Regions from separate parts of the Homo sapiens genome. Here region 1 is linked to region 2. The links come from fine-mapping of genetic effects on gene expression. A gene starts in region 2. The other region holds a variant in brackets. All regions are shown on one strand. Distances are from middle to middle.

The links.
Region 1: its variant is fine-mapped to the expression of SDCBP2-AS1 in whole blood (INTERVAL, PIP above 0.99).

Annotation. Positions count from the first base shown.
Region 1 is chr20:1,353,722-1,368,881 of GRCh38, reverse strand. All of the region lies in intron 2 of FKBP1A-SDCBP2 (FKBP1A-SDCBP2 readthrough (NMD candidate)), which reads left to right. The region is part of intron 1 of SDCBP2-AS1 (SDCBP2 antisense RNA 1); the gene reads right to left. Among named protein-coding and RNA genes, the nearest start is that of MIR6869, 32 kb to the left of the region's middle. The variant G/C (reference allele first, on the strand shown) is at 7,045.
Region 2 is chr20:1,317,559-1,332,725 of GRCh38, reverse strand. SDCBP2-AS1 (SDCBP2 antisense RNA 1) reads right to left here and starts at 7,383. Exons shown (of 3, transcript NR_040049.1): 1 at 7,197-7,383. SDCBP2 (syndecan binding protein 2) reads left to right here and starts at 3,587. Exons shown (of 9, transcript NM_080489.5): 1 at 3,587-3,641; 2 at 12,291-12,363; 3 at 13,067-13,136; 4 at 14,308-14,408. The coding sequence starts at 12,310. FKBP1A-SDCBP2 (FKBP1A-SDCBP2 readthrough (NMD candidate)) reads left to right here. Exons shown (of 10, transcript NR_037661.1): 3 at 12,291-12,363; 4 at 13,067-13,136; 5 at 14,308-14,408. It overlaps LOC124904856 (a long non-coding RNA gene), which reads right to left and starts at 12,291. Exons shown (of 2, transcript XR_007067487.1): 1 at 11,526-12,291; 2 at 8,357-8,860. RefSeq lists enhancers at 6,807-7,101, 7,092-7,321.

The DNA.
Region 1 (15,160 bases), 36 kb before region 2:
CAGTTTCAAGATTGTGTCTTGGCAGAAGAATGCAGCAGTGAACATCCTTCCTCACTGGCTATTAACGGGTTGGGGGTCAGAGGAGGGGGAATGTGGGGTAGGTTTGCATCAAAGGAGCTGCCTGAAAGGGCAAGCTGGGATAGTCAGGGAACATCCCCTCCCCTGTTACCAAATGTTTATTAAATATGTGTTCTGGGTAGAGCACTATGCTCGGGGTTCTTGGGTTACAGAAAAGTGGGAGATACAACACATTTTTGAGAAGTGAGTCACAGTCCACTTGGAGATGTGCTACAAGCAACTGCAAGCAAATTAATGAGATACGAAGAGAAGACTCTGATTTTAAATTGGTATTCCTCAGTAACATTTAATGTAGAAAGACAGTCCTGTGGAGAGGCTGCGTGGTTGCAGTAGCTTCTCTGGACCCTGCCCTGGGTGCCAGGAACACTTTGCCCTTACTGAGAGTTCTAGAGACCGTCAAGAATGCTCCCACACCTTTCTAGACACCTTCCAAAATTGCCCAGGTTGAGAACCATTGATTTTAAAAAGGAAATTATTCAACAGCTTGCTTAATGGCTTTCTAAGTTCTTTTTGTTAATTTATGGTTTTTAGAGTGCCAGAGTCATATTCCAGGGTCACATCTTACCATCCCCAACATTTTTATAAAAATTCTCAAACAACACAAAGATGATTAAAATGAACACCTGTATACCCACCACCTAGATTCTATCATAAACATGTTACTGTATCTATATATCACCTGTCTATCCATCTGTCCATCAAACTATCCATTATGTCTCTTCAGAGTAAATGGCAGACATCACTACAATTCCCCCAGTACGTGTCATTGACTAGACTAGAGAGTAGTGTTTGTTTACACTTTTGTGCCCCTGCCAGGATAAAGAACATCACCATACCAGAAAATTCCAATATGGCCTTCCCCAGTCAACCCCACCCCGCCCTTGGAGGTGGTAATTGTAATTCTTTTCCACCATAGGCTAGTGTTGCCTGTTCTGACATTTAATTTAAATGGAGTCCCACACTATGTCCTTTCGCACAGTCAGTATTGTGCCTTCACTCAGGCATATGGGAAGCTGTTCTCACTGAACTTGGCATTTCAGGGAAATCCTCTGGATTGGGGATGGGAGTCCTCAGAGATGTCCACATCCTAATCCCCAGGACCTGTGAATGTGTCACCTTACATGGCAAAAGGGACTCTGCAGATGTGGTTAGGTAAGGACCCTGAGATAGGAGGATTATCTGTATTTACCTGGGCGGATGCAGTGTAAGCACATGGATCCATATAAGCATCAGTGAAGGCGACGTGAGGGTGGACAGACTTTTGAGGATGCTAAGCTATTGGCTTTGAAGATGGAGGAAGGAGAGCAACAAGCCAAGGAATGCTGGCAGCCTCTAGACGCTGGAAAGGGCAAGGAAACGGATTTTCCCCTAGGACTCCTGAAAGGAACACAGCCCCACCCATACCTTAATTTTAGCCCTGTGATGCCCACTTTGGACTTCTGACCTCCAGAACTGCAGAATTTATTACTAAGGTGATAAGTTAGTGTTGCTTTAAACCATTTGTTAACAGCAACAATAGGAAACTAATACAGGGCCAACTTTTTTTTTTTTTCCCGAGATGGAGTCTCACTCTGTATCCCAGGCTGGAGTGCGGTAGCGTGATCTCGGCTTACTGCAACCTCCGCCTCCCAGGTTCAAGTGATTCTCCTGCCTCAGCCTCCCTGGTAGCTGGGACTACAGGCACGTGCCACCACGCCTGGCTAATTTTTTGTATTTTAAGTAGAGATGAGGTTTCACCGTGTTAGCAGGATGGTCTCGATCTCCTGACCTCGTGATCCGCCTGCCTTGGCCTCCCAAAGTGCTGGGATTACAGGCGTGAGCCACCATGCCCGCCAATATTATTTTTAATGTATAACAGAATAATGTCAGGGTTTTGTTTTTTTTTTTTAATCCAGGATCCTACCACCCTAACAAACAAATCCAACTTCAATTTTTTTTCTCCTTCCTATTTCTTGCCCTAAGCACTTACAACGTTTAGCTTTAATCACAACGTAGTACAAATTTTGCATTTCTGCTTTTTTCCCCACTTGCCATTTTTATCAGGAGTATTTGTCCCTGTTGCCATATGGTTTTTATAACTGTTTTAAGAGGGCTGCTAAGTAAATTATACCACATGAACATTAAATTTACTTAACTACCTTGTTAAAGGATAATTTTTTTAGAAGTTAAAATTATGACTCATACAAATATAAAAGTAACATGTTAAAGATGATTGTATTTAACTTGTTAATTATTGAGAGAACCAGTAGGACACTTTAATTGGCTCAAAGGAGAATCCAAAGAACAAATAATTATAAGCCTAGCAGGAATGCTGAAATGAGTTTGCTTCGTAGTTACAAAACTGGCAAAATTGGCTGATACCTGCAGAACAATAATCAGTTATATTCCATTGGTCACAATTTGCATTTCTATGAACAAGAATCATCTGCATTATCAGTTTCCCTTAATTTACGTAATTGTAAAGTAGCTCAAAGGCAGTGAAATGAAAGGGAATCAACTCAGAAAGGTGGGCTAGATTAGACAGAACACTCAGTAATTGGAGGCAGGGGTGGGGGCAGTGGGCAAGACCTATTTCAAAGTCCTTCACAGTGTTTCCTGATAGCCTGTATTTGGATAGCTGGGTTATGTCCAGTTATTTGCTTTTATTAAATGTCAATACATCTTTGAACATTTTTTTCTTTCCTAAATACCTAGGTTCTATAAGATATAATACTGTTAATAGTAGGGGATCCCTAGGGTCAAAGGAGATTTTGACTTTTGATTAGTGTTGCCAAGTTGACCAGAGTTGTATAAGCCTTTTCCCATGCCAAAAACAAAAACACCATCCATGTCCAATGGCTATCACTTCCATAGTGTCCTAAAAAAAATCTTTAAAAACCTTCCTTTCTCCAGTGGTCCTCTGCTATGTCGTGAATGTGTCTCCCAAAGTTCCATGTGTTGGAAACTTGATCCCCAGTGCAGTGGGTGTGGGGAGGTAGGACCTAATGGGAAATGGTTGGGTCATGGGGGCTCTGCTCTCATGAGTGGATTAATGCTGTTATTATGGGAGTGGGTTCCTCATAAAAAAATGAGTTCAGCCACCTATTGGCCTCCAGCCCTCTCTCTCTTTCTGCCCTTCCACCCTCCACCATGGGGTGGACAGCAAGAAGCTCCTCACCAGATGCCAACACCTTGATTTTGGGACTCCCCAGCCTCCAGAACTCCATGAGATAAATTTCTCTTCATTATAATTTACCCCATGTATTGGTATTTTTATTATAGCAGCAAAAAGTAGACTAAGACACCTTTCCACCTTCTCATTTCTTCTCATATTCATTGGCCAGAATTAAATCTGTGGAGAATTTGACCTGGATCAATCAAGACCCATCACCCCAGGGCTGGAGAAGGGCTCAGACTCCCCTAAAGCTCTGAGCCCTAGAGCCCCTGAACAGATTCCGTTAATAAACAAGAAGCAGGGGGACCAGTGGACCCAGCTAGAAGCGGTTTATGTGGCTACTTACTGTATTTTCTTTTTTTAAATTTCCTTTTTTGTTTTACTTTTGAAATGCATGATGGTTATACTACAGTCCTAGGATTCAGGAAAACTTCTAATTCCACATCTAACCTTTGCTAAGGGTTAGATGCCAAACTACCTTTTGTTTGAGTTTTTCCATCCATTAAATGAACTTGGGATGAGAGTGGGAATGTGGGTGGTCAGAGTGACCAGATGAACTTTAAGATACCTTGCATCTCTAAAATTTTAATTATTTGAAAGTTAATGATCCATGTGAAAAACTTAACTTAGCTGTGGCAACCACATAACACCACCACCACCACCCCACCCTACCCTCTGTTTGAAATGCTTGTTCTTCAGTGCCGCAAAGAAATAGCACTTGAACATTAATTTCTTCAGCAAGGTCATTTTTATACTTTCTGCAGAAAGGGTACACTCGCCAGCAGTTTTGCCACGAGAGAACACCGAACAAAGGAGACAGGGTCATTTATAACTTGACAAGTCCACTTTACTGCTGTGTCCAGTTTCCATTGGCTGGAACGGGACCTCACATTCTGTATTTGTCCTGATTGGCTAGCAACTTAGAACTTTTTAAAAGAGGCAAAGGCAGAGGAGAATGAAGGAGGAAGTAACTTGTGGAATGCTGAGAAACGTAAAAACACCTTCAGATAAGGAAGAGGAACAGGCTATGACCTAATGCTTGCTTGGACCAGTATAAGCATTGCCAGGGCAAATAGGCTAAATTGTGGGAGCTAAGAACATAAAGTACATTGATTTCTTTATTACGGCTAGCAGATATTTAAGAATGTTAGCACAGGTCTTTGAATAAGTTTTGCTCCTAAGAGAAGTTACTATTTATTCTTAATTAGACAGGGAGGAAAGTCTTTGAAGAGGAACCTCACTTTACTTTTTACACCCCTAAGAACCATGATGATAGACTGCAAAAAAGCATCCCATCAACCATCACTTTTTCCAGGAAATGGCTGGCCACAGAAAACTCTCCGCCCCTTTCCTCTTTTGAAATGGTCCCAGACTGCTCACCTGCCTCCTTGAAGCTAATCAAGTCAAATGTACTTGAAGACCACTTTGTCTCTTGGCTTGCTTCCACAAATCCTACCCTTATATGACATTTGCCAAGTCAACACTGTCAGTATTTCTCCTTTTTACTCTATAACGTCTTAACACCTCTGAACACTTACCAAAACAAAGGTTTCAGCAGAAGGGTTCCCCTGCTGCACGTTTATGAATAAATAGCCTTTGTCGATTTTATCTTGGACTTAGTTTTGTCTCTGACACATGTGGAATGGATGTCTGTTAGAATTCTGCCCTTGCCACACCTCTTGCTTCCTGGATAAATGTGGGTTCACTTGGGTTGATGACCTTGGGCTACACTGGCTTCTTCAGAACCCCTGAGAAGCGTGTAGGGATTCTCATTCAGACCTCTAGAATTGAGTGAATCAGTGAAGGGCAGCTGACACCAAAAATGCATTAAAATGTCAAGGCCGGCAGCCCTCTAGCTTCTGGCTGGAGTGTGTGATGATTTCGTCTGAATTCCCTGAGTTCAAGGCATGCAGTGGGCACATCGACTATGGGCCCATCAGAGGCTGAGTTTGCAGCAGCAGCTGTCCTGTACAGCATGCAGCAAAACGGCTGTCAGCTCTTATTAGGAAGGTAGAAACATGCCAGTGGGTATGTATGCAGGACTAGTGTATCCTTGGATGTGCCTGTTACTGACCACTGTGGTTCTGTTTAACATTAATTTGTATATTTCTCAAAGCATCACATGCCCAAGATTTAGGCAAGTAAATTCAGTTAACCACAGAGTATACTTTTATGCCTTTCCTGTGATAACACCATTCTAGATGCTAAGAGTGAATGTAGGATAGGACAGAAAAGTGCTGCTGGCAAGGACCTTACATTCATGCCAGTGAAGGAGACCCAAAACAGATGGGCAAATAATGCCAGCCGTCTGGAAGCAATGGAGTGAAGTGGCCAAGTGAAGTCCTGGAGGAAAATTGTTCTAGGCTAAGTCCCTGAAGGGTGGTGAGTTTGGGGTGCTGGGGAAACAGCAGTATGACCTTTAGAGACAGAGCAAAGGTGTGAGGGACAGAGTTAGGCAGGGGCCAGGTGAGGCAGGCTATTACAATGTAAGTCTAGTGAGCAGTGGATTCCAGCAGGAGAATTATGTCTATTTGTTTTGGGGAGAGTGTTTTGAGACAAGGTCTGATCTGTCACCCAGGTTGGAGTGCAGTGGTGTAATCACAGCTCACGGCAACCTCAACCTCCCAGGCTCAAGCGATCCTCCCACCTTAGCCTCCCGAGTAGCACATGCCACTGTGTCGAGCCGTTTGTTTTTTTAAAATCCTCTGGAAACTGGGAAATTGACTGAAAGGTAGTATTCCTCCAAGCCCTTGAATCTAGGCTGGCCTTGTGACTACTTTGATCATTACAAGGCAGTGGGAAAGGATGTTCTGGGACTTCAAGCCCAGGCCTCAATAGGACTGCCAGCTTCTACTTCCTTCTCAGAACACTAGCTCTGAGCCCAAGCTACATGGAGAGGCCATCGTCCTAGCTGAGAACCTAGCCAGCTGCCACCATGTGAATGAACCACGGTGAACACTCAGCCCATTCAAGCCCACAAATGCCCACAGCTCCAGCCACATCACATGAATAGAGGAACCACCCCACTCAGCCCAGGAAAACCAGAGTTGTGAGACTGAATCACTTGGTTTTGAAGTTTATTTCACAGCAATAGATAAGTGAAACAAGGGCAAGAGTGGTGGATGGATGCAGGACACAAGCCAGCTTTGGGGTTCATTTAGGCCAGAAAGGATGGAGGCCTGGAGCAGACTGGCGGAAGTGAAGATAGTGAATCGTCAGATTCAGGACGCACTTGATGGGTGCAGCTTTCAAGCTGGATGAGAAGGGAAAGAAGTAGAATAGAAAAGCAGCAAGTCTCTGCCTGGCTTTCTCCAGACGACTCCTTAGAGCTTTAGACCCCCCGCTCTCTTTGATAACTACCACCATCCTGCACGAACCAGTTGCTTATACTGGCTTATATTGTGATCGTGTTTTGTTTTTTGTTTTTTGTTTTTTTTTTTGCTCTTTAAGTAAAAAATAAGGTTAAATCTTTGAGAAGTCCTTCTTAAGCAACAAAACCTCAGAGACACAAAGGAAATTATTAATAGATGTAACCACTTAAAAATAAAAAATGAAACTTCTCTATCATAAAAACATGCCATAAACAAAGCTAAAAGATGATGAGCTATAATGGAGAGAAAATATTTGCAAAATATAACAAAAAATCTCATACACTAACTATATAAGCAATTCTAAAGAAAAAGGTAGCCAAATAGAGACTAGCATTAAGCTGCTCTAGGAATTTCACATTATATTACCATATCTTGACGTATGAGTTTTAGACGTGTCATGTGGCCCCTCGGCCTCCAGTAGATATGCCCAGGCTTCTCACA[G/C]CATGGTGGTCTCAAGGTTCCAAGAAGGTGAGGAGAAACTTCAAGGCCTCTTAAAGCTTCAGCTGCAGAACTCACATAATGTCACTTCTTCCATGTATTGGTCAAAACAAGTCACCAGGCCAGCCCAGGCCCAAGGGTAAAGAAATAGACTCCCTCTCTCACTAGGAGAAACAGCAAATTTCTCATTGCAAAGTGGTGCGGATACAGGGAGGTGTGGTTCACTGGGACCATTATTATAGCACTCCCACGCAATGGCTAAAAATGCCTTTCTTCTACCCTCATGATTGATAGCTTAGCTGGGAATATTATTTTGTATTGATAATTATTTTCTCTGAGGATGAAAGCATTGCTGCACTCTCTTGGAGCTTCCAGTGTTGTTGAGAAGGGTAATGTCATTTTGATTCCTGTTCCTTTATGTGTGATCTCATATTCCTTTCTGAAATCTTTCAGGATCTGATTTATCTATGGTATGATGAAATGTCGTAACACGGCCTTGTGTGAGTCTTCTTTTTTTCTTTTCTCCCCTCCTTTTCCTCCTGTTTTTTGTTTACTATGTTAAGCATTTGGAAGGTCATTTTAATCTGGATACACATGTCCTTCAGTTTGGAAGGTTTCTGATATTTCTTTGATAGGTATATTTTCCACAAACATATTTTCTCCCAAAACATATCAGAAGAGTGGTATTATTTTACATTTTTAAACATTTACGCTTGGCTTAATAGAATGAGTTCTCACATCTACTTCTGCATTCAATCTTGCAATATGTTGTTTTGGTTGAAATCTATGAAGAAATTACAACTAAGCACATTTTTAAGGACGCTTGTGTCTGAACAGATAGTAATACAGAAACCAACATAACGAGAAATACCTGGCATCTCTTTATCTGAGGACTTTGCTAAATGGGAAATATTTAGTCATCTTCTTGAAAAGAATTTATCCAAACTTGCATTGGTAGAAAACAAAACTGGCTTTGTTTCCCTGTATAAAAACCACTTAGCACTTCATTTGTATATTCAAATGTAGTTTGTGAAGAGAGCAATCAGAGAAATCATGTATCCAATTTGTAAATACAATTAACCAAGAGAATATACAGGTCAGATCGCCCTTCAACTGGTCTCACAATTGCCATCACAAACTGAGTCAGCTGGCCAAAGTGATGGGGAGACATTCTGAGAAATGTGTCATTAGGAGATTTCACCATTGTGTGAACATCATAGAGTATACTTACACAAATCTGTATAGTATAGCCTACCTACCACACACCTAGGCTATACGGTACAACCTGTAGCTCCTAGGCTACAAAACTATACAGCAGGTTTGTACAGTGACTGTTGAATACTACAGGCAATTGGAATACAGTGGTAAGGATTTGTGTATCTGAACAGATCTAAACATAGAAAAGGTCATGTGTCACTACATGACGTTATGCCAGTTGGCAATAGGAATTTTTGAGCTTCATTATGGTTTTATGGGACCACTGCTGTGTATGCAGCCCACCACTGATGAGAACATCATACGCAGTGCGTGACTGTACTTCGACCACCAGGGGTACAAGTGCATGGACTGGACAGAAGGAAAACCTCAGAGAACCTGAGGATGTGGATAAGACTGTTTAGTGAGGTTCTCAACTCATCACAAGCTACCAGGTATTCGGCATGGAGGGGTGGTGACAGTTATGCAGGACATTGACATATGATGATACAGTGGTCATTCTTACATAAAATGAAGAAGACTGTCCAGTAAATTCTATGAGTTTGCAGTAGATGGATCATCAAAGGATATGGGTAATCTTGTAGTAACAGGACTATGTTACTAGGAATTTCACTAGTCCTGTTACTAATTCATAGGCCATGGAGCAATATAAGACCAAGGTTACAAACCCCTAAAATTGTCTGGAAAGAGAATGACTTTTTTATGTACTTTGGTCTGAGCATGTGATTCATAAGTATATGACAGCAGATCAATTCAGATACATCCAGAAGAAGCCATCCTTTATTCTGAAATGTCCTAACCATACCTGAAATAAATACTAAGTGATGCACCAGAATTTTCCTCCCTGGGATCAATGAGCAGTAGCATTGAGAGCAGAAACGGCAGCCGTGGTAACAGGAGCTGCTGTGGTCAGTAGGCTCTCAGGGTCTGTCAGGCAAGAGCATAGGATAGTGACAATTCAAATGAAAGCAAAAACAAACATAAAAAGGAATGAACTACTGAAATGCCAACAATATGGATGAATCTCACAGATATTATAATAAGTAAAAGGAACCAGACTTTTTTTTTTTTTTGAGACGGAAGCTCACTCTGTCACCAGGCTGGAGCGCTGTGGCGCGATCTCGGCTCATTGCAACCTCCGACTCCCTGGTTCAAGCGATTCTCCTGCCTCAGCCTCCTGAGTAGCTGGGATTACAGGCATGTGCCACCATGCCCAGCTAATTTTTGTATTTTTAGTAGAGATGGAGTTTCACCATGTTGGCCAGGATGGTCTCGATCTCCTGACCTTGTGATCCACCCACCTTGGCCTCCAAAAGTGCTGGGATTACAGGCGTGAGCCACCGTGCCCGGCCCAGACTTTTACAAACATTACGTTCTATGTGATTTTCTTCATATGGAACTCTAGAAAAGACAAGTTCAACTTACACTGGCAGAAATCAGGCCAGGTCTGAGGCTCAGGATGGAGGAAACTGACTAGGAAGGAAGACAAAGGGAACCTTTTGGGGTAATGGGAGTGTTCTATATCTTGATTGTGGTTAGGGTTACATGGATATACACATTTGTCAATCTCATGGAAATGTATACTTTAAATGGGTACATTTTATTTCATGTAAATTACACCTCAAAAAGTTTATTTAAAAAATACATGGGGCTTCCATGTTCACACAAGATAAAGTAAGTGGACTCCACCCTATTCCTTCTGCTAATTACAACTAAAAACTAGACAAAATACATAAAGCAACTATCAGAAACCTCTAAAGGTGAAGTAAACTAGGCAGACTGGCAAGGAAACTTAAGTCTCAAGGGATGACCTGGCAGGGAGTTCCCAGAGGCTTTCGTAGTGTTCACGTATTTCAACCTGGGCACTAGAGGAAGGCACAATCTGAAATGACCAACAAGCACAGACAACAAAAGTCCTAAGGAAAATGCTTTCTCTAGTCAAAGGACCTAGAAGAGGACAGTAATGAAGGATGGCCTTTTTTTTTTTTTTTTTTTTTGAGATGGAGTCTTGCTCTGTCTCCCAGGCTGCAGTGCAATGGTGCGATCTCGGCTCACTGCAACCTCCGAGGATGACCCTTTTGACAATACTTGCTCTACTCCAGGTGAACACCATCAAAGAAACCACAGCCCTCCTCTCCCCAACAGGCTCTGCAGAGACTGGTGTGGAGTTCGGTGAACCATCCCTGCTGTGCACGAATGTGGGGGCAACACTCCCCTTCCTCACCAGTGATTCTGGAGACAAGTGGAGCTCTATTAATGAGCCCCATCCTGCACTAATGGGATAAGAGGTGACACCCCCTCCCTCCTCCTTCTTCCCATGGGATGCTATGGACACTCTAGGGTAGAGCCCTGTTGACTACCACCTGTCCTGCAGTAACAGAGGCAGCACCTACCCCCTCACAGAGAGTGTGGGCAGAATAACAGAGAGGAGGGAGCTGCGGAAAAAGCGTCTTTCAATTTGTGCACATCCCCAAGTGGCCTATGTGTGAAACTCATCAGAATTAACACAGCAAAAGCTTTAAGAACTGAGCTATGCTGTGGAATACCACTCGGGTTTCTGGGTATCCACTGGTCTCTGGGTAGCACACAGGCAGAGCAGACCAAGATAACGCTGAATTTGAAACCAAACTGACATTCAAACTCACAGACCACAGAAGTGAGTCATGATGTGCATTCTGAATTGAAGCAGGTTGAATGCATGCTAAAGTAGAAAATATAAAAAGGAATCAGAGTTTCATAATACCCAAAGTACTGATAATATTGAATATTACTTGTCATGTCAGAAAACAGAAAAAGTCAACCAGAATGAGAACAGGCAATCAACAGATGCCAATACCAAGATGGTACTGATGTTGGGATTGTCTGGCAAGGATTTTTAAAGCAGCTATCATTAAAAAACAAACAAAAACACTTTTAACAAGAAACTATGAACACTCAAAAAACAAAGGTTCAATAAATAAAAGATACAAAGAAACCCCAGCCGGGTGCGGTGGCTCATGCCTGTAATCCCAGCATTTTGGGAGCCCAAGGTGGGCGGATCACCTGAGGTCAGGAGTTTGAGACCAGCCTGACCAACATGGAGAAACCCCGTCTGTGCTAAAAATACAAAATTAGCTGGGCGTGGTGGCGTGCACCTGTAATCCCAGCTTCTTGGGAGGCTGAGGCAGGAGAATCGCTTAAACCCGGGAGGCGGAGGTTGTGGTGAGTCAAGATTGTGCCATTGCACTCCAGCCTGGACAACAAAGAGTGAAACTCCATCTTAAAAAAAGAAAAAAAAAGAAAAAGAAACCCCAAATGGAAGATTTATTTTATTTTAAATCATTTTTAAAAAAATAGAGACAGGGTCTCACTACATTGCCCAGGCTGCTCTCAAACTCTTGTGCTCAAGCAGTCTGCCTGCCTCAGCCTCCCAAAGCGCTGGGATTACAGGTGTGAGCCACTGTGCCCAGCCTATTTTATTTTTTATTTATTAACTTATTTCTTTTGAGACAGGGTTTGTCTCTGTCACCCAGGCTGGAGCGCTGTGGCGTGATCTCAGCTCACCTGCAAGCTCCACCTCTTGGGCTCAAGCGATCCTTCCACCTCAGCATCGTGAATAGCTGGGACTACAGGCACATGCCTTCATGCGCAGCTAATTTTTTGTATTTTTTATAGAGATGGAGTTTCGCCATGTTGCCCAGGCTGGTCTGAAACTCACGGACTAAAGTGATCTGCCCGCCTCAGCCTCCCAAAGTGCTGGGATTACAGGCATGAGCCACCACACCCAGCCCCAGATGGAAGTTTTAGAACTTAAAAATATATATATATACACAATAACAGAAACAAACTCATTGGATGGACACAATGGCAGAGTGGAGATGACAGAGGAAAGAAACATTGAACTTGAAGACAAACCAATAAAAGTTACACAGTCTGAACAGAGGAAAAAAAAGACAATAGATTTTTTAAAAATGAATAGGACTTTAAGGACCTATGGGAAAATACTCCAAGATCTAAATACTCTTTAGAGCTATTGAAGTTCCATAAGGACAAGAGAAAGAGTGCAGTGCTGAAAATATACTTAAAGAAATCATAGCTGAAAACTCCCCAAATTTGGTGGAAGGTGTAAATCTTCAGATTTAAGAAAATGAGCAAACCCCAAGCCAAGAGGACTCAACAACCCTAAAATAGTATGCACTGAACAACAAAGTTATAAAATAATGTGAAAACTGACAGAATTGAAAGAAGAAATAGATAAATCCACAATTACAGCGTGGACTTCAACATCCTTCTATCACTAACTGATAGAACCATTAGACAAAAAAAAAAAAATCATCAAAGATTAGAAGAAATTAACAACATGAGCAACAACATTTAAGTGACATTTCTAGAACATTCCATCCAACAGCAGCAGAATACACATTTTTTTTTCAAGTGCACATGGAACATTTACCAAGATAGACCATATCCTGGGACATAAAACAAACTTTAACAAATTTAAAATAATTGAAGTTATGTGAAGTATGTTTTCTGATCAGTTGTGATGGAATTAAACTGTATGCCTCTCACTCATTCTTAAAATGCAAGGCTGGTTTTATACTGAATTAATAATTAGTAACCTTCCAAAAAAAGAAAGTACAAGACCCAGATGGTTTCACTGGTTTCACTGGTGAAACCAAATGTTTAAGGAATAAATAGTATCAATTCTCTGCAATTTCTTCCAGAAAACGGAAGCAGAGGGAATACTTCTTAACTCATCCTATGAGGCCAGCACTACCCTAATACCGAAACGAGATTAAGATATTATAATAAAGGAAAATTAAAAACCAATCTCTCAGGAACACAGATGTACAACTCCTCAATAAAATACTAGCAAATCAGGAGGAGGTGGAGCAAGATGGCTGAAAAGAAGCCTCCAGCAATTGTCTACCCTGCAAGAACACCAAATTGCACAATGATCCACACAAAAAAGCACCTTCATAGGAGCCAAAAATCAGACAAGTGATTACAGTACTTGATATTAAAATCATATTAAAGAAAGAGGCACTGAGTGTGGTATGGAGAGAGAATATGTGCACTTCTGGAAGAGAGCACAGTGATTGTGGGACACTGCAATGGAACTCAGTGCCGCCCTCTCACAGTGGAAAGCAACGGGGCAGAACTTCGCGAGTGCCCATGTCCTAGCCAGGGGCAAATCATCCATCCCAGCAGTCAGAACGTGAGTTCTGGCAAACCCCGCCAAAGTGGGCTAAAGTGCTCTGGGGTCCTAAATAAATTTGGAAGGCCGTCTGGACCAGAAGGACTGCAATTCCTGGGCAAGTCCTGGTGCTATGCTGTGTTCGGAGCCAGTGTACTTGGGAGGCATGTGACCTAGTGAGACACCAGCTGGGGTGATCAAGGGAGTGCTTGTGTCATCTCTCCCCCAACTCCAGGCAGCACAGCTTACAGCTCCAGGAAAGACTCTTTCCCTCTGCTTGAGGAGAGGAGGAGAAGAGTAAACAGGGCTTTTTTTTTGGCAAATTGGATACTAGCTCAGCCACAGTAGAATAGGACACTAAGCAGAGGTCTGAGGCACTCGTTCCAGGCTCTAGCTTCTGGATGACATTTCTAAACTTACCAGAAAGGAACCTACTGCCAGAACAGAAGGACCCAGTTCTGGCAAAATTCATCACCTGCTGACTAAAGGGCCCTTTGGCCTTGAATAATCAGCAGTGTTAGCCAAGTAGTACTGGCCGCAGGCCTTGGGTGAGACTCAGAGCCACACTGGCTTCATGTGTGACCCAGTACATTCCCAGCTACGGTGGCCTCAGGGAGAGACCCCTTCTGCCTAAGGAAAGGAGAGGGAAGAGTAAAGGGGACTTTGTCTTGCAGCTTGGGTACCAGCTTGGCCACAGTTGGGTAGAGTACCGAGTACCAAGTGGGACTCTGGGGCCCCGATTCCAGGTCTTGGCTCCTGGATGGCATTTCTGGACCTGTACTGGGCCAGAGGTAAGCCCACTGCCCTGAAAGGAGAGAATCAGGACTACAAGCATTCACCATAAGCTGACTGAAGAGCCCTTGGGTCTTGAATGAACATAGGTGGTAGCCAGGCAGTACTCACCACGGGCCTAGGACAGTGGTGGCCATGGGGAGACTCCTCTGCCTGAGGAAAGGGGAGGGAATAGTGGAAAGGACTTTGTCTTGTGGCTTGGATGCAAGCTCAGCCGCAGTAGAATAGAGCATCAGGTAGACTCCTAAGGTTCCCAACTACAGGCCCTGCCTTCTGGACGACATCTATGGACCCACCTGGGGCCAATCTCAGACAGAGATTGATGAATATTTGGATAGATAATTCAAAATAGCCATTTTGAAGAAACTCAACAAAATCATGTTGATAACAGAGAAGAAATTCAGAATCCTATCAGATAAATTTAACAAAGAAGTTGAAATAATTAAACAGAACCAAGCAGAAACTCTGGAGCTGAAAAATGCAACTGACATACTGAAGAATGCATCAGAGTCTCCTAACAGCAGAATTTGTCAAGCAGAAGAAAGAATTAATGAGCTTGAAGACAGTGTATTTTAAAATACAGTCAGGAGACAAAAGAAAAAAGAATAAGAAAGAATGAAGCATGCTTACAAGATCTAGAAAATAGCCTCCAAAGGGCAAATCTAAGAGTTACTGGCCATAAAGAGGCAGTAGAGAGAGGGACTAGGGTAGAAAGTTTATTCAAAAGGATAATAACAGAGAACTTCTCAAACCTAGAGATATATCAATATTCAAATACAAGAAGGTTATATAGAACACCAAGCAGATTTAACCCAAATAAGACTACCTCAAGACATTTAATAATCAGACTCCCAAAAGTCAAAGATAAAAAAGGATCCTAAAAGCAGCCAAAGAAACAAATAACATACAAAGGAGCTCCAATACATCTGGTAACAG
Region 2 (15,167 bases):
ACTAACATTTACTAAATGCCAGCTGTGTCCTAGGTACTTCACATGGTTACCTCATTTAGTCTTCAGGATAAGTCTATAAAGAAGGTAGGTGTGGAAACTACAGCTCAGAGAGGTTTAGTAACATGTGCAACATCACAGAGCTGGGACTCAGATCGGATGCCCCAGCCCAACCCATCTTTTAAATAAGGGTCAGCCATTTAAGTTTCTAACTGTGATTGACTTTTCTAGGAGGGGCATTTATTCACTCAGTCAATATTTACTGAGGCCAGGTGTGGTGGCTCACGCCTGTAATCTCAGTACTTTGGGAGGCCAAGGTGGATACATCCCTTGAGCCCAGGAGTTCAAAACCAGCCTAGGCAACATGGCAAAACCCCATCTCTACAGAAAATACAAAAATTAACCAGCTGTGGTGGCATACGCCTGTGGTCCCAGCTATTCAGGAGGCTGAGGCAGGAGGATTGTGGGAGGCTGAGGCAGGAGGATCTTGGGAGGCTGAGGCAGGAGGATCGTAGGAGGCTGAGACAGGAGGATCACTTGAGCCTGGCAGACAGAGCAAGACCATATCTCAAAAAAAAAAAAAAAATTTACTGTGAGCCTGCTATGTGCCAGGCATAGTACTAGGCCTCAGGGTTAAGACAAGCCCCTGCCATCATGGAGCACCCATTCCAGATGGCATGGAGACTTCACCTCATGAGCCAACTCTAGGTGACGGTAGCTGCCTGCAGCATTATGACGAGAGGATCCGGAGAGGCCTCTGGGCCCAGCAGGAAGGACATTAGTGGTTGATTACTCAGGGTGCCATGGGTGCTACCAGGGAGTTTCTGAGTGTGTGCTGTTTACTGGCCACCCAAAGTTTTAGACTTGTTCATACAAATATATAACAAAGCAGAAATATTGTCTGGTCAGAGCACAGTTCCACTCCTTATTTTGAAAAGAGTAACTGGCTGGGTGTGGGGTCTCACACCTGTAATCCCAGCACTTTGGGAGGCTCAGGCAGGCAGACTGCTTGAGCCCAGGAGTTTGAGACCAGTCTGGGCAACATGGCAAAACCCTGTCTCTACAGAAAATAAAAAAATTAGCCAGGTGTGGCAGTGTGAACCTGTCGTCCCAGCTAATAGGGAGGCTGAGGTGGAAGAATCCTTTGAGCCTGGGAGGTGGAGGCTGCAGTGAACCATGATTGCACCACAGCACTATGGCCTGGGTGACAGAGCGAAATGCTGTCTCAAAAGAATGACCACTGTAGAGCTAATAACTTGGCCCTGCCCTCAGGGAACTTAGGGTCTAACTAGTAGCCTAAAAGGTACACATGAGTACAAGATGATGATTATTAAAGAATGGAACAGGAGCGTCTGATCCAGAGTCAGAGGCGGGAGAGGCCACATGGATGTGGGGGATCCCAGAGGCTTCCTGGAGGAGCTCAGTGGTGGATGTGGCTAGGTGGGTGGGGGCAGGAGAAGGTGTTCCAGGGGCAGCAGCAGGACAGGCAAAGGTATGGAGTCAGGGCAGGTAGGAAGTGGGTGTGCAGTGGGGCAGGAATGGTGGGGCTCCCAGTCCAGCTGAGGCAGAGGTGCTGGGGGAGTGCTGAGGAGGTAATAAAGGGAGTGGGCTGTGGAGGTCTCCATGTCAGCCCTGGGAGTTTAGCCCAGACCCTGAAGCAGGAGGGAGCCACTGAAGAGTTCGAGCAAGGGCATGCCCAATGAAAGATATTTCCAGGTGGCTGGAAGTCAGTGATGGGTGGCAACTATCCAAAGAGGGAATAGAAAGAGAGTCCCTGTAGGTATTAAATAGGTGGGAGTTAGGGGACCTGGGCTCCATGCTGACATGCTGGGACCACAGGCAAGCCCCTTACCTGGAAGGGCCTGCTTCCTCCTCCCTCTTCTATAAAGGCCCTTTCAGGTCATGACTGAATGAAGTGAGGTGGGGGAGGAGTGGCTTGGTTTAGTTAGGATCTCTATTTTCCACTTTGCTTTGGCCTTGGACACCTGACCTAAGGTGGGTCCATCACCCACGTTACCTCAGCTTCAGGCCCACACAGCTTACTCTGAGGTTGCCCCACACCTCAGCTTTCTGAAACAGTATGTCCCATAGAAGAGAAGACATGAACTTGGCCCACTTTCCAGCTAACTTGAGAGAGAAACTTTGCCTCTGTGCCTCAGTGTCCCCACCTGGAGGAATGGTGTGAGTCACACCTACTCTGCAGGGATGGCATGAGAAGCCATTGAGATAATGCCTTTAAAGTGCCAGGGGTAGAATCTCTGTGCTCTCTGGGAGTAAGTGCTGAATTAGTGGCAAATGTCTTTCTTGTTATTATTCCTATTGTGTGTTTCCTGTGTGGGACTCTGGGCTGTAAGCTCTTCATTGGCAGGCACAAGATCTGACACCCAAGGCTAGTGCAACTCTGCCAGGTGGGTCATGGGAACTGTGACGTAGGCCTGCCTGGCCCAGGAAGCAGCCCAGATACTGACACACCCTGAGTGTGTACAGCGTCAATCCTCATGGGACTGCCCAGCACACGAGTCCCTCGTCCCTCCCCAGGCACCCAGTGCGACAGGCACCCTCACCCAACCAAACCCACCAGGATCTAAACTAAATTCTTCCTCCTTTTCTGTTCAAATTTATATAATTATTTTTGGAATAAGTAGTACATTTAAACTTTTCAAAATTTAAGACACCAAAAATGTGCCATAAAAAAAAAAATCTCCACCTCAGCACACAGCTCCTTAGGTCTGCTCCCAAGAGACAACCACTCTAAATTCCCATTAAAATAATCAAACTTAATTGCTTCCCCCTTACAAAAGTCATGAGCATTCAGAGCAAAAGCTAACTTAAAAAAAAAAAAACCACCTTGGAACACACAAAAGTACAAACTGAAAACCTCACCCTCAATGCTGCCATTCAGAGATACTCAGCATTTTAGCGTATGTCCTCCTAGACTGCTTTCAACGCACATCCACTTTACAAAAAATGAAAACAAAATGCAAGAAGAGATTCACAATATTGATTTTTCAACATCTCACTAGAATCTCAGAAATGTTTCCTCATACCTTCTTCCTTAAGTGACTTTAATAGCTCTGTGATCTTCCACAGACAATGATTTATTCAAGCAGACCACAGAGATGGGCATTTGGGATTTCTACATTTTCCTTACTAGAAGCAGCAGTGATGGATGGGCCCTGTGACTCCACTGTAACAAATTCCTAGAAGAAATGCTGGGTCACAGGATATGACCACTTTTTAATATCCTGGCCTAGACCCCTAGATACCTATCACAAACCGCCCTCTAGCCAACTGCCTCGATCAGCAGGACTAGGTGTCCAACCCAAATTTAGAGCTATTTAAGAAAAGGCCAAGAAGTCTTGGTTCATAACCGTCTGAACAGCAGCTGTGAGGGCCTTAATCCCACCTCCAAATCCAGACTAAGGCCAAAGGCCTCCTCTGGGCTGGCAACCTGCCTTGTTTACCCAGCCACAGCCCTCACCTGTGCCCATCCCAGTCCAAGGTGAGTCAGCTGAACAGGGGACAGGCACCACCCTTCCCAGATCAGGAAGCCAGCTGAGAGACAGGGCTACGTTTCAGGGAGGGAAACAGATTCAGCAGCGGCAGCAGCTGGAGAAGGTCGTGGAGCAGCACCTTGCCTGCAGGTAAGCGCTGGGGGCCCTGACCCAATCCTGGCTGGGATTGGGATGAGTGAGACCTGCTCTCACCCTGTCCCCTTCCCTCCCTGCCCCTTCCCTTCTGGGACTTCCCAGGCAGCTTCCTTTCGAAGTGCTTCACTCCAAGCAGTCAAGTGTGAAGTGGGGTTTCTTCTTCTGATCCCAGCCCTGGACCAAGTTTGATTAAGGGCTGAGTGATTTTCTTCACCCAGACATCATGAGGGCCCCCGATGCCTTCTGACTGCCCATGACTGTGCTCAAGGAGATGAGATCCACACTTTGCTCCTTGAAAGGCCAATTCCAGCCGAAACCAGAGGCTGCAGGCAGGCAAAAAGCCCATTTCTCCCAAGGAATCCACAGCTCAGGCCGACTTCTCTGGCCTGAGGCTGTTTCTATCAAAAAACCTTCCTGCCACAGCACTGAAACACCTGCTGGGGAACTGCGCCAGGGGCTTCACCTTTCTAAGAACTGGTTTCTTCATCTGGAGACTGAAAATAGCCCACAAAGTCAGGAGAATGGAAGGACATACTGGACACAGGAGCCAGTGCATGCCCTCCTCAGCAGGGTCTCAGAAAATGGGGCAGAAAACGAGCCTGGTATGGGCTGGGCGAGCACTGGACAGGCAGCTTCACGTACAGTGGCCCAAGCTCATGACAATTCCACCACCATCACTTCCCACCTGGGCTCCTGCTCCCACTCCTGCCCTGTAGCCCATCCTCCAAACATCAGCCAGAGGAGGCCTGTCAAAATAACCCTTGGACCTTGGCACTCTGCTGCTACAAATCCCCCAGTGGCTCCCATCTCACTACAGTAAATGCCAAAGTCCTCACCATGACCTCCAGGCCCTCCAGGATCTGGCCCCTCTCACTTCTCCAGCTTCCTCCCCACTACTCCTCCTTACTCCCTCTCTGCACAACTGGCTTCTCACTGGCAGATGTCCTCTAAACACAACACCAACTCCCACCTGAGAGGCTCTGCAATGGCCGTGCCCACCCCATTAGGCCTTTCCTCAAATGTCACCCCACCCAGCCAGCAAGGCTTCTGAACCTCCTGACATGACCCTCCGTCCTGCTCTTTCTCTCCAGTGCCTCCCACCATCTAACACAGCACACAGAGTCACAAAGCCTATTTATCCAGCTCTTCCCCCAAAGAAAGTACATTTGGGGACCAAGTCTTCTTTCCTTCACTGCTGATACCTAGAACAGTACTCAGACTTAGCAGGTGCTGAGTAAGTAAGCGCTGAAACAATGAATAAACAGCTAACTTTTACTGAATGCCTATTATGTGCTAGGTGCTGTGCTAAATGCTTTCCATATACACCTTAACTCTTTTTAAAAATCTTTCAGTCTCCAGACAACTGTGATGCAACTATTGTTATCCAGATTACAAAGGAAGAAATGACATTCAAAGGGGATTTGCCTATGCTGTGCTCTCACAAGTCAGAAGCAGTCAGTCTGAACCCTGCCCTGCCTGGGCCTGGGTTCAGGCGTGTCTGCTTGAGGAAGTCACAGCTTTTCCCCAGCAGGCAGTGCAGCACTGAGAGGAGGAGTGGGGGTACATGCTGGTGGCCTAGCAACAGCTTCTTCTATTCCGACTCACCACATCCCTGGGCTAATTTGGCCTTCCAGGAGCTATTCCTCTGACACTCTAACCCACGCTTCCCTCCCGCGCACTGTCTTGTAAAGGACGGATGAGCTGTCCACAGGAACGAGTGGGAGTTCCATCACTTCAGCTCTTTGGAACAAAGTGTTCCAAAGAGTGTTCTCACTCTAAGTTCAAAGATGGGGGCTGAAGTCCCCTTGTCAGCCCTGCTGATCTCCGAAGCCCAGCTATTGGTTTGTTGTGGGTGTTGTTATTGCTTATATCAAAAAGTACAGAAGCTCAGGGATGGAAATCTGGAAAGGGCTGTGGGAGAGGAAAATTCCTCTGAGAGAGAGGGGTTAGGTGGGTTCTTTTCCTTTCGGAGGAACCAATTACTTGTGGGAAGCCATCAGCACAGAACTGAGCAAACTTCCACTGTCAGATTATAGGAGCCAGGCAGCCTTTCAACCTAACTCGTTAGGGCCATGGTTTCTCTCCTTTTCCAGGCCCAGGTTATTCTTCGAAAGACTTTCTACTTATTGACTGCAAACACAGACAGGCATGGGAAGAAAGACTGTATATTTAGGATATCAGGCTTTCTCTTCTCTCTGTGCCTGCTTTTCCACTCCTTTCAGAAATAGTAATGGGATGCCTGTTGTGTGCCAGGCACTGTGCTCAGCACTGGGGGTTAACAAATGAGTGACATTTCCTGACCAGTGAGGGAGATGAGCAAACAAACACAGCACAGTGGAAATCCAACCTAGGAAATGCAGAAGGCCTTGCTCATAGTAGGTGATTAACAAACACTTGTGGAATATATGATGAAGAGGCAAATACAAGAAATGCTGTCGTCTAGAGAAGGGAGGCTTGCCAATCTCCATGCGTACAGGTGGGGGAAAGCTTTAAATTGGAGGAAAAAGAGTTCACAACAAGGAAAAGAGAGAAGGCATGAATGACTCTTAAGACAGAGGGAATAGCACCTGCAAAAGCATGGAGGCATGAACTAGCAGGCTGACTTTTAGGACTCAACCTAAAGTAGTCTGGAATAAATGAACTTCATGATAAGTGTGGAGAAGAATGAGATGGTGAGAATGGAAACATTACCAGAAGTCAGGTCACAGAGATTTGAGGGCAAGAAGTAGGTATGGCTTCAGAAGGGAAAGGGAGGAGCTGAGGATAACTCCCAGATTTCTGACATAGCCCATGGGTGGATTCAGTGAGACCGCTGGGGAGGCGCGGCACAGCTGGGGAAAATCACGAGTCCAGTTTGGATAATCTGCGAGGTAAACGGGATCCAGAAGGCAACTGGACTCTCAGGCCTGGGCCTCCCTGTCCCTGGAATAGCACACTCTCTTCCCACTTGAACATCCATCCTACACGGCCCAGTCAGGGTCTTCTTCCTTCCTCCAGGAGACCTTCCTGATTGCCCTAGCCTTCCTCCTATACGCCACATCCAACTGCCTGAGTCCCTCATAACAGGCTTTCGGTCTGATTTTGCTGTGGGAATTGATTTGCCCGGCCAAGCCAAGAACCCTTCCCTAGGCAGCAGAAGCCCAGTCACTCAGTCACTGGTGGGTGGGACGCGGGGTGAATCTGCGTAGGGTGGGGCGGGGCATTTTTAGCTCAACACTGGGTCAGAAGTCACGGCCAGACAAGAAACGGGTGAGAAACGGGGGAGGAAGGGTGACGTCACAATTGGTAGGAAATACCTTGGGACTTGACGCTTTCGAAACCAAAGGGAGAGCAAAAGCAGCCGGGAGCGCGCGGGCCGACCTGGTTCTCCTCCCTTCCCACGGCTGCCTTAGTACAGAATCTTATAAGTCCTCCTCCTTCAGAGGCTACAAATGGTGTTCCGAGGCCAGGGGAGTTTAAAGCTCGATTTCACCCGCGCAGCCTCCAATCCGGTAAAGAGGGGCCGCGGAGCCCGACCAAGTCTTCCTATGCCTTACTCTGCTGCTTTACCTGATCTATTTTTGTGGATGCCGGCGCCAGCTACGGGCGCCCGGAGAAAGCACGAGGCCGGGTGGACTCTGGTAACGCAAGCGGCAAGGAGGCCGCCATGTTCCACTCTGCAGCCGCTAGGGATCGTGGGAGTCACCCCTAACCGCGCCCGGGCCTGGGTGGGCGAAACGCATGCGCTCTAGAAGTTGCTGAGTCGCTTGGCGGTGTTTCTGCGCAGGCGCCGTAGCCCATAGCAACCGCCGTAACCTGTAGCAACCGGAAGATGTCGCTTCCGGCTGGTTTGGGGCTAAGAAAGGGGTTATAGTCATTTCGAGATCATAGAACGATGTGACAGATAGGAAACTGAGGCTGGGTTGGAGGCAGGCCCTAGGGACCGTTGCGTTGGACCTCGCTCCTGTGGCGCGGTGGATGGAGTTTGTGGCTTGTGGCTCCTATTTCCCAAAGCAGGAAATTGAGACAGAGGGAAGGCACAGGTTCGTCCTGAGGCTGCAGCCCAGGTGATGGTTCCCCGGGTAAAAAATCAATATGATGCCCTTTGTTTATAAGGAGAAGGCAGGGACATGAAAGTAATTTCTAATAAAAGAATATGCATTTCACTTTGTAAAAGCTGAGGCTGGCTTACACCCGATCACGCTTGTACCCAACTTAGGAATCAGCTTAGGTTTACTAGAAGACAATATTCAGCTGAATTTTGCCAACAGTTTATATCTGACATCTTGAGTCAAAGGCTAAATATATTTATATAAAAGCGCGGAGTCACTGTGACAGCTACACATGTACACAGACGTGAGCATGCTGTTCGGGTGACTCACCCGTGGGGAGCAGGGTGGGCAGCGATTTTCCAGAATGGTGAGCAAAGTGTAACTCCCCACAACCAACCTGATATATGCATTTCCAGACAGTCTAGTGTGTACTAAAACTAGGGAAAAATTCATTGTGATTGTATGTACAACCAATTATAACGGATTTTTGGCTTACTTGAAAGTTTGGCAGGATATCTGAAAGTTGTGCGGGACAGGACCATTTGTTATGGTGACTGTAATGGACTGTCCCATCCATTACAGGAGTTTCATATCCCTGCCCCCCCCACCCCCGACAGGGATATGACTGTCCCCTCAGTCTCGTGACACCCAAAAATGCCCACATAAATTTCCAATCTGTTCCTTGGAAAACCACTGATTTATTCAGTCAAATAATTTTTGCTAGCATATGTGTGCTGGGCAGTGCCGTGGCGGGGAAGGATCGTGTGTGAACGGGACAGAGCTCCTGCCCTTATGAGTGAGGTCCAGTGTAAGAAAATACCCAGATATTAATCACATAATTTGATAAATAGCTTGGCAACAGGGGCAGTACAGGTCAGGGGTGGAATACATGGGAAGACCCAGCCAGGCAGCCTGGGTATCATGCAGTCTGGAAAAGCCAAGCAGAGAAGTAGCATCTGAACTGAGCCTCGAAGGAGCATCACACCAAGGAGGATGATGTGCACAGCAGAGGGACCAGCACGTCTGGCACACAGTGGACACTCAAATGTTTTGAATGATTGAACGAAACACAGCATGTTCGCTGGCAGGGAACCATTCCCCATTATATTGTGAGCTGCTACAAGGCAGGGGATACAGTATGCCTTTCCTATCCCCAGGTTTCACATCCATGGATCCAACCAACTGTAGACAGAAAATATTTAAAAATAAAAATTAAAAAAAACAACAAAAATTCAAATAAAAATAAAATATAACTTTGTTTAGCATTTACATTGCATTAGGTATTGTAAGTAATCTAGAGATGATTTAAAGTATACAGAAGAATGTGCATAAGTTATATGCAAATATTATGCCACTTTATGTAAGGGACATAAGCAGCTGTGGATGTTGGTATCCGAGGGATGGGGAGTGAGGGGCATTGTCCTGGAACCTACCCCAAGGAACGACTGTACCTGTTTTCTCACTTCCCCGCATCCCAGCACTAAGATGGGATCCAGAGAAGGTGGCAGTGGTGAAAGGATCTCAGACACAGAAAAAGGGTTATGTGATCTGGCCCGGGAGTGATTTCCAGGAAATGGATCTCTGACTCCCTGCTCTCCCAGGGGACAGCTGACAAAAATATAAGTGCTCTACTGGTTAAATGTTAGGAAAATCAGGGCAGGAGTGGCTGCTTATTTTCGCATCTGCTGTTCATGCGTGGTCCTGGTGGCAGGTCATGTTTTGGCAGATGATAGCTGCTCAGGACTGTCCCAAGATTAAAAATCTCATAGTGTGTGTACACAGTGGGGAAGGCTATAAGCAAAGGGGTCTCTTCCCCCAGGTGGTCTAAAGGAAGTCAGAGCCAGACTCCCTCCCCTCCCAGGAAATTCCTGTCCTGTTGGGATGGTCATTTCTACCCCAAAGGCCAGGCTAGGGCAGGGTCTGGAACTGGCTGCCTCCAGGAACCAAGCAGGCAACGTAAATCAGTGAAGGGCTGATGGGTACTTGCGGAAACAGGAAAGCACGTACAGCCCCATTTGCGAGGTAGGCTGTGACTCAGCCGGGTGAGTGTTGCCATGCACTATTCCAGCTCTTGCCTTGCCAAATGTTTATATTTTTTTCAATCCAAGTAAGAAGTGACGCATTTTGTGTTTCCAGATTTTTAAATATTGGCACTAATTCAGATTTTAAAAACAAAAGGCTGGGCATAGTGGCTCAGGCCTGTAATCCCAACACTTTGGGGGACCGAAGCGGGCAAATTGCTTGAGCCCAGGAGTTCAAGACCAGCCTGGGCAACATGCTGAAACCCTGTCTCTACAAAAAATACAAAAATTAACCAGGTGTGGCGGCATGCACCTATGTCCCAGCTACTTGGGAAGCTGAGGTGGGAGGATGGCTTCAGCCCAGGAGTTGGAGATTGCAGTGAGCCAAGATCGCGCCACTGTACTCCAGCTTTGGCAACAGAGTGAGACTCTGTCTCAAAATAATAATAATAATAAAACAGGACTGTGAGAGGCACATTTGGGACTTCTGGTCCTTGTTTCATCCAGGAAGGTGGGTGTTCTTAGGATACTAGAGCTTTACTTTACAAGGAGAAAAGTGGAAGCCCAGGTAGAATGTGTTGCTTCTGGCAATATTATTGAGCTAGCCTCCATGCTAGGGGTTAGAGGCTTCACAGCAAATGAGAAGCCCCTGTTCCTGCCATCTTGGAACTCCTAAGGAGGTAGACAGACAAGTAAAGAGGCAACCACAAGAGTGGTGAATACTCAACAGGAGTAGGACATGGAGCAGGGGCTAGGGGGAGCACAAATCAAAGCAGGCTTCCTGTAAGAGGAGCTCCCTGATCTGAGACTTGAAAATTATTAGGAGTTGGCCAAGCAAGGAGCAGGGAGAGGAGGGGTATTCCAGATAGAAGGAATAACACATGCAAAAGAGACAGGAGGGAATCACATGCAAGGACGTGGAAGTAGCTCATTGTGGCTGGAGTTGAAAGTAGCAGCTGAAAGGACGTAAGGCAAGAAATGAAGCTGGAGAGGTAGACTAGGGTTGCAAACAAATATCTATTGGGACTTGGCACCAGTGAGTACAATGGTCTGGGTGTAACAGCCAATAGAGGATGGTGGACTGGGTCACCCTGGAGTCTGCTGCTACTCAATTGTAGCTACTCTGCTATAGCCTAGGGTTGCCAAAGCTTCCTGTTTTTTGGGAGCAGTGGGAAATTCGATTATTAAATCCAGTACCTTGAGCTTTGTGTTTAAGCTGCTAATCTGAACGTTTACAGTACTCCACAAGGTCAAATAAAATCTATTTCCATCTGGCCCTGGGCCCACCAGTTCCAATCTCTGGTGGAATCGTGAAGGCCCTGTGAGCCTCTTTAAGGAGAGTACATTCCCAAGGCAGGGAAGCCACTGGCGGGCTTTCAGCCAGGGCATGACATCCCAAGTGTGTACACAAAGGGCCTGGTGGCTGCTGTCTGGAGAGCAGCAGGACGGCAGGAGGGGAGGCAGCAGTGTGTTTGGAGGGTGTTATGGCACCTGGAGAGGGCCAGGGAGATGATGGGGACCTGCACAACACGGGATGTGGGAGAGATGGGATTTGATGACAGACAAGAAGGGATAGTGGGGGCGGGGCCAAGGATGACACAGGGGTCAAGGCAGCAGGTGCAGAGGGAGGAGAAGGAGCAGTGATGGATGAGTATGTCCTCGGCGTGCCTGTGGTCACTCAGGGAGGTGCCCAGCGGATCTGATCCTGGGAAGCCTGGAGTCACATCGCTCAGGCACAGGACCCTCAGTTTCCTGTGCCACCAGCGGGCATTCCTTTATCATGTGTACCCATCACATGTGAGTTCAGTGGGGTGAATAGGACACACCTTTACCCCTCAGAACTGCAGTCAGGACAAGTGGCGAGTTCAAGCAAGAGGCTGGCCCGGTGCTGTCCCGGAGCTGTCCCGGAGGGCAGGGTCCTGGGTGGGAGGGGCAGTGACCGTATTGCCTGGGAGCCAGGGGAGGCGTGTCCCACAGGAACCGAGGGTGACAAGGAGGTTGGGCAGGGGCTCCAGTTGGAGTGGACTGCCTCAGCGAAGCCTGGAGGTGTGACAGAGCCAGTGGTTAGTGAGTAAAGGGAAGGAACCCAGAAAGGCAGACTGCTCCTTCCCCACATTTCGTCAGGAAGGGAATAAAACATTTCTTAAGAGGTCATCATTCCTTTCACTTTCTCGGGGCACCTTGCTCAGAGGTCCTGCTGATTCTCCCTGGGACAATGAGAAGGTGTTTAGTAAATAAGTGCTCATGGTGCCTCTCCACCCCCCATTCCCTCCTCCCTCTGGAGCAGTGCCCTGTTGAGTGTCTAAGTTCTGCTACAGTTTGTGTGAGAGTCTTTATAAATTTCCTACTGGTCTTACTTCATTGTGGCCAAGATTAAAAGTTGACAGTGAGGCTGGAGATGAGTGGAATACAGTAGAGTTCAAATATCGACAGGGGATTAGGGGTGGAGTTCGGGGAGGCATTCTAAGTGCCCTGCTGCCTTTCTGTTTGAATATTAAGTTCCAACCCGCTTGCTGTTGCGGATGTCTGTGCCTCCTTTCAAGGGGGCATCAGCTGCATCCTTATCCTTCCCCACCCTCTGCACTCTGCAGGGTGTTCTGAGAATCAGCCATGTCATCCCTGTACCCATCTCTAGAGGACCTAAAAGTGGACCAAGCCATTCAGGTAAGTCGCCAGGCCCCATTGGCCTGGATTCCCTGAAGGGGACCTTGGGGATTACCCTGGAAGGTGCTGGGTACTGGGGCCACTTGGAGATTCCCGTAGGCCTCAGGGCATGTAGGTGTCCACTGCAGGGCCTGCTGGGCAGAGAAGACATCCAGGGGGCAATGCCAATGGCGTTACAGCAAGAATAGAAAAGACCAAGCAGCGCACGCATGCCTCTCTCATGCCTGCTCTGTCCTGCCCAGGCCCAGCTCTCCCTCCCTCCAGGATGGGCGGGCTCCATGCTCTAAGGCAGGCTTTCAGAGGAAACAAGACTAGTGGGCATAGGCATTGGTCTGCTTAGCCCCCAGAAGCCCCCTTCCTCCTCCATCCCAGCACTCTGTGGTTCCAGTGGGTTTTGAGAAATGGAGACTTTTCAGCTGAGAACTTGATTGGGAGATGGGCCTTGATGTTCTGCCTGTTGCAGGCAGTAAATGGGTTGTGACATAGGGTGGGTCACAGTCCCCCAGAACTTCCTCCCAGGAAAAGACACATCTGCGGAGGCCACGTTTACGTGATCTTGAGCCCTGAGGGTTGGTGCACACTCCCCCCACACCCCGGGCCCACTCACACCCCTAATGCCCAGACCCTGGCCTCATGGAGCTCCAGGCTCTGGGGTTCCTGGGGTCCTGGCCACAGCTGACCAGTGCTCCCTGCTCCTCCCCAGGCCCAGGTCAGAGCCTCACCCAAGATGCCAGCCCTGCCAGTCCAGGCAACAGCCATTTCCCCACCACCAGGTGAGTGGGCTGGGATGAGGGGCTCCTGGGTGCCAAGTCCTTTCAGGGAAGAGATCATCAGGGAAGCTTGGCAATGCCAAAGGTATGGGAGGCTCCAGGGTTAAGGACTCAACATGGTGGGAAGAGAGGACCAGGCTTCCAGTTGCCACCCACCTCTTACTGCCTGGGTGACCTGGGCTGAGTCACCTCACCTCCCAGAGCCTGTGCCCATGCTGTTCCCCTCCCTCCTTGACTGCCTGGTGAACCCCTGTTTATCCTTCCAAACCCAGCTCAAGTTAGGGAAGCTATGGCTTCTCTGATGCCCCCAGCAAGGCTGCCTTGAGGATGTGATATCATTTGTGGGGCCTCTGTCTATATAAACGATTTGAGTCACCTCAAATCAGCATTTCAGCACCATTCTGGTGATCCAATCTCATGTGACCCCGGGAATGAAATACCACACTTGTCAGACTTCCTTGCTGGAACTATGGCTGGCCTGGGGTGGGGGCAGGTGGGGAAGAAGTGGACGGCAGATAGCGGCTCAAAGAGAGAAGGGGCCAGAACCCCACTTGCCTTATTCAGCTTAGGCTTCCATAACAAAATACCATAGGCTGGATGACTTCAACAGCAGAAATGTATATTCCCACAGCTCTGGAGGCTGGAAGCCCAAGATCAAGGTTCTGGCCAATTCAGTTTCTGGTGAGGCCTCCCTTCCTGGCTTGCAGATGGCCACCCTCTGGCTGAGTCCTTACATGGCCTTTCCTCAGTGTACTTGCTTAAAAGAGAGAGAGAAAACGAGAACACGAGAGAGATACAGCATGAGAGCGCATGCATGAGCCCTCTGTTGTCTCTTCTTATAAGGACACAAATCCTTATAAGAAGGGATTAGGACCCTGCCAGTCCTGGTGGGAACCATTCGCTGAGGGATGCAGAGGTTTCTGGGTGTCAAATAAAGTCAGTGGAGTTGAATAGCAAAGTGGTGCATGAGGACTCGGTGTCCTACCCTGCACCTGGGCCCTCTGAGGAGCGCTCATCAGTGAGTGTTCCTGGGGATACCCCACAGTCTTGGAAATAAATACCATTCCCAGGCTCCATTTCTTAATAAAAATGAGCAGCCACAGGGGAGCCAGGCAGGCATAGGGAAGCACATGTCCTCTAATGACACATTTATTCTTCCTTCTTTCCCTATCAGTTTTGTACCCAAACTTGGCAGAACTGGAAAATTATATGGGTCTTTCCCTCTCCAGCCAAGAAGTCCAGGAGAGCCTGCTTCAGATTCCAGAGGGTGACAGTGTATGTATTTGGCTTCTGCCTGCTGCGGGCGCAGAACCTCCCAATCCTCCCTTTTTCCTGGTCTTGCCATTTCAACAGACCTTCTTTCTCTCTGTGCTCGGACCTCCCCTCTCCCCAGCACTCTGCTGGCTCTGTTTCTTGATGGCACCGTTCATTTTGAGGCTTCACGAAAACCACTGTGGGCTTTCATGGTTTCAGATCTTCCCACAAGCCTTGGGGATGGAGAACCAGGGCTTGCCCTTTGACCTTGGGCCTGAGCTGGATGAGAAGGGAGGTCATTAAGCCCAGCGTGAACCTGGGGACATCAAAAGCAGGGCTGCCTGCATGGATAAACAGAGCCGAGAGGGCAGGAGCTCGTCACCCAACTCTGGTCCCCAAATTAAACAACAAGGCTCAATTCCTGCTTTCCATGGCTTCGGGGAGCAAAAGACACCATCACAGAAATATATGCCACTGAAAACATATTTACCTGTAGAACCAGTCCCCGCCTAAGCCCCTTGCCAGTTAGCTCTAGCATCCCTGCGTCCCACCTGTCAGTCTTCCTGCCAGGCTCGTCCTGAGCCGATGAAACTGAAAGTACAAACTGCAAAGTTGTCTAAGGCTGGGGAATTTCATGAAGTTCATGGATATGATGATAGAGAACTGTCACAGACACATACAAAGCCACTGCCAAAACGAGGATCTGACAGGAGGAAATCCACAAGGATGAGGCCATGTGGGACCCTGAGAAGAACTGATGGCACCCTGGGGTGTTTCTCC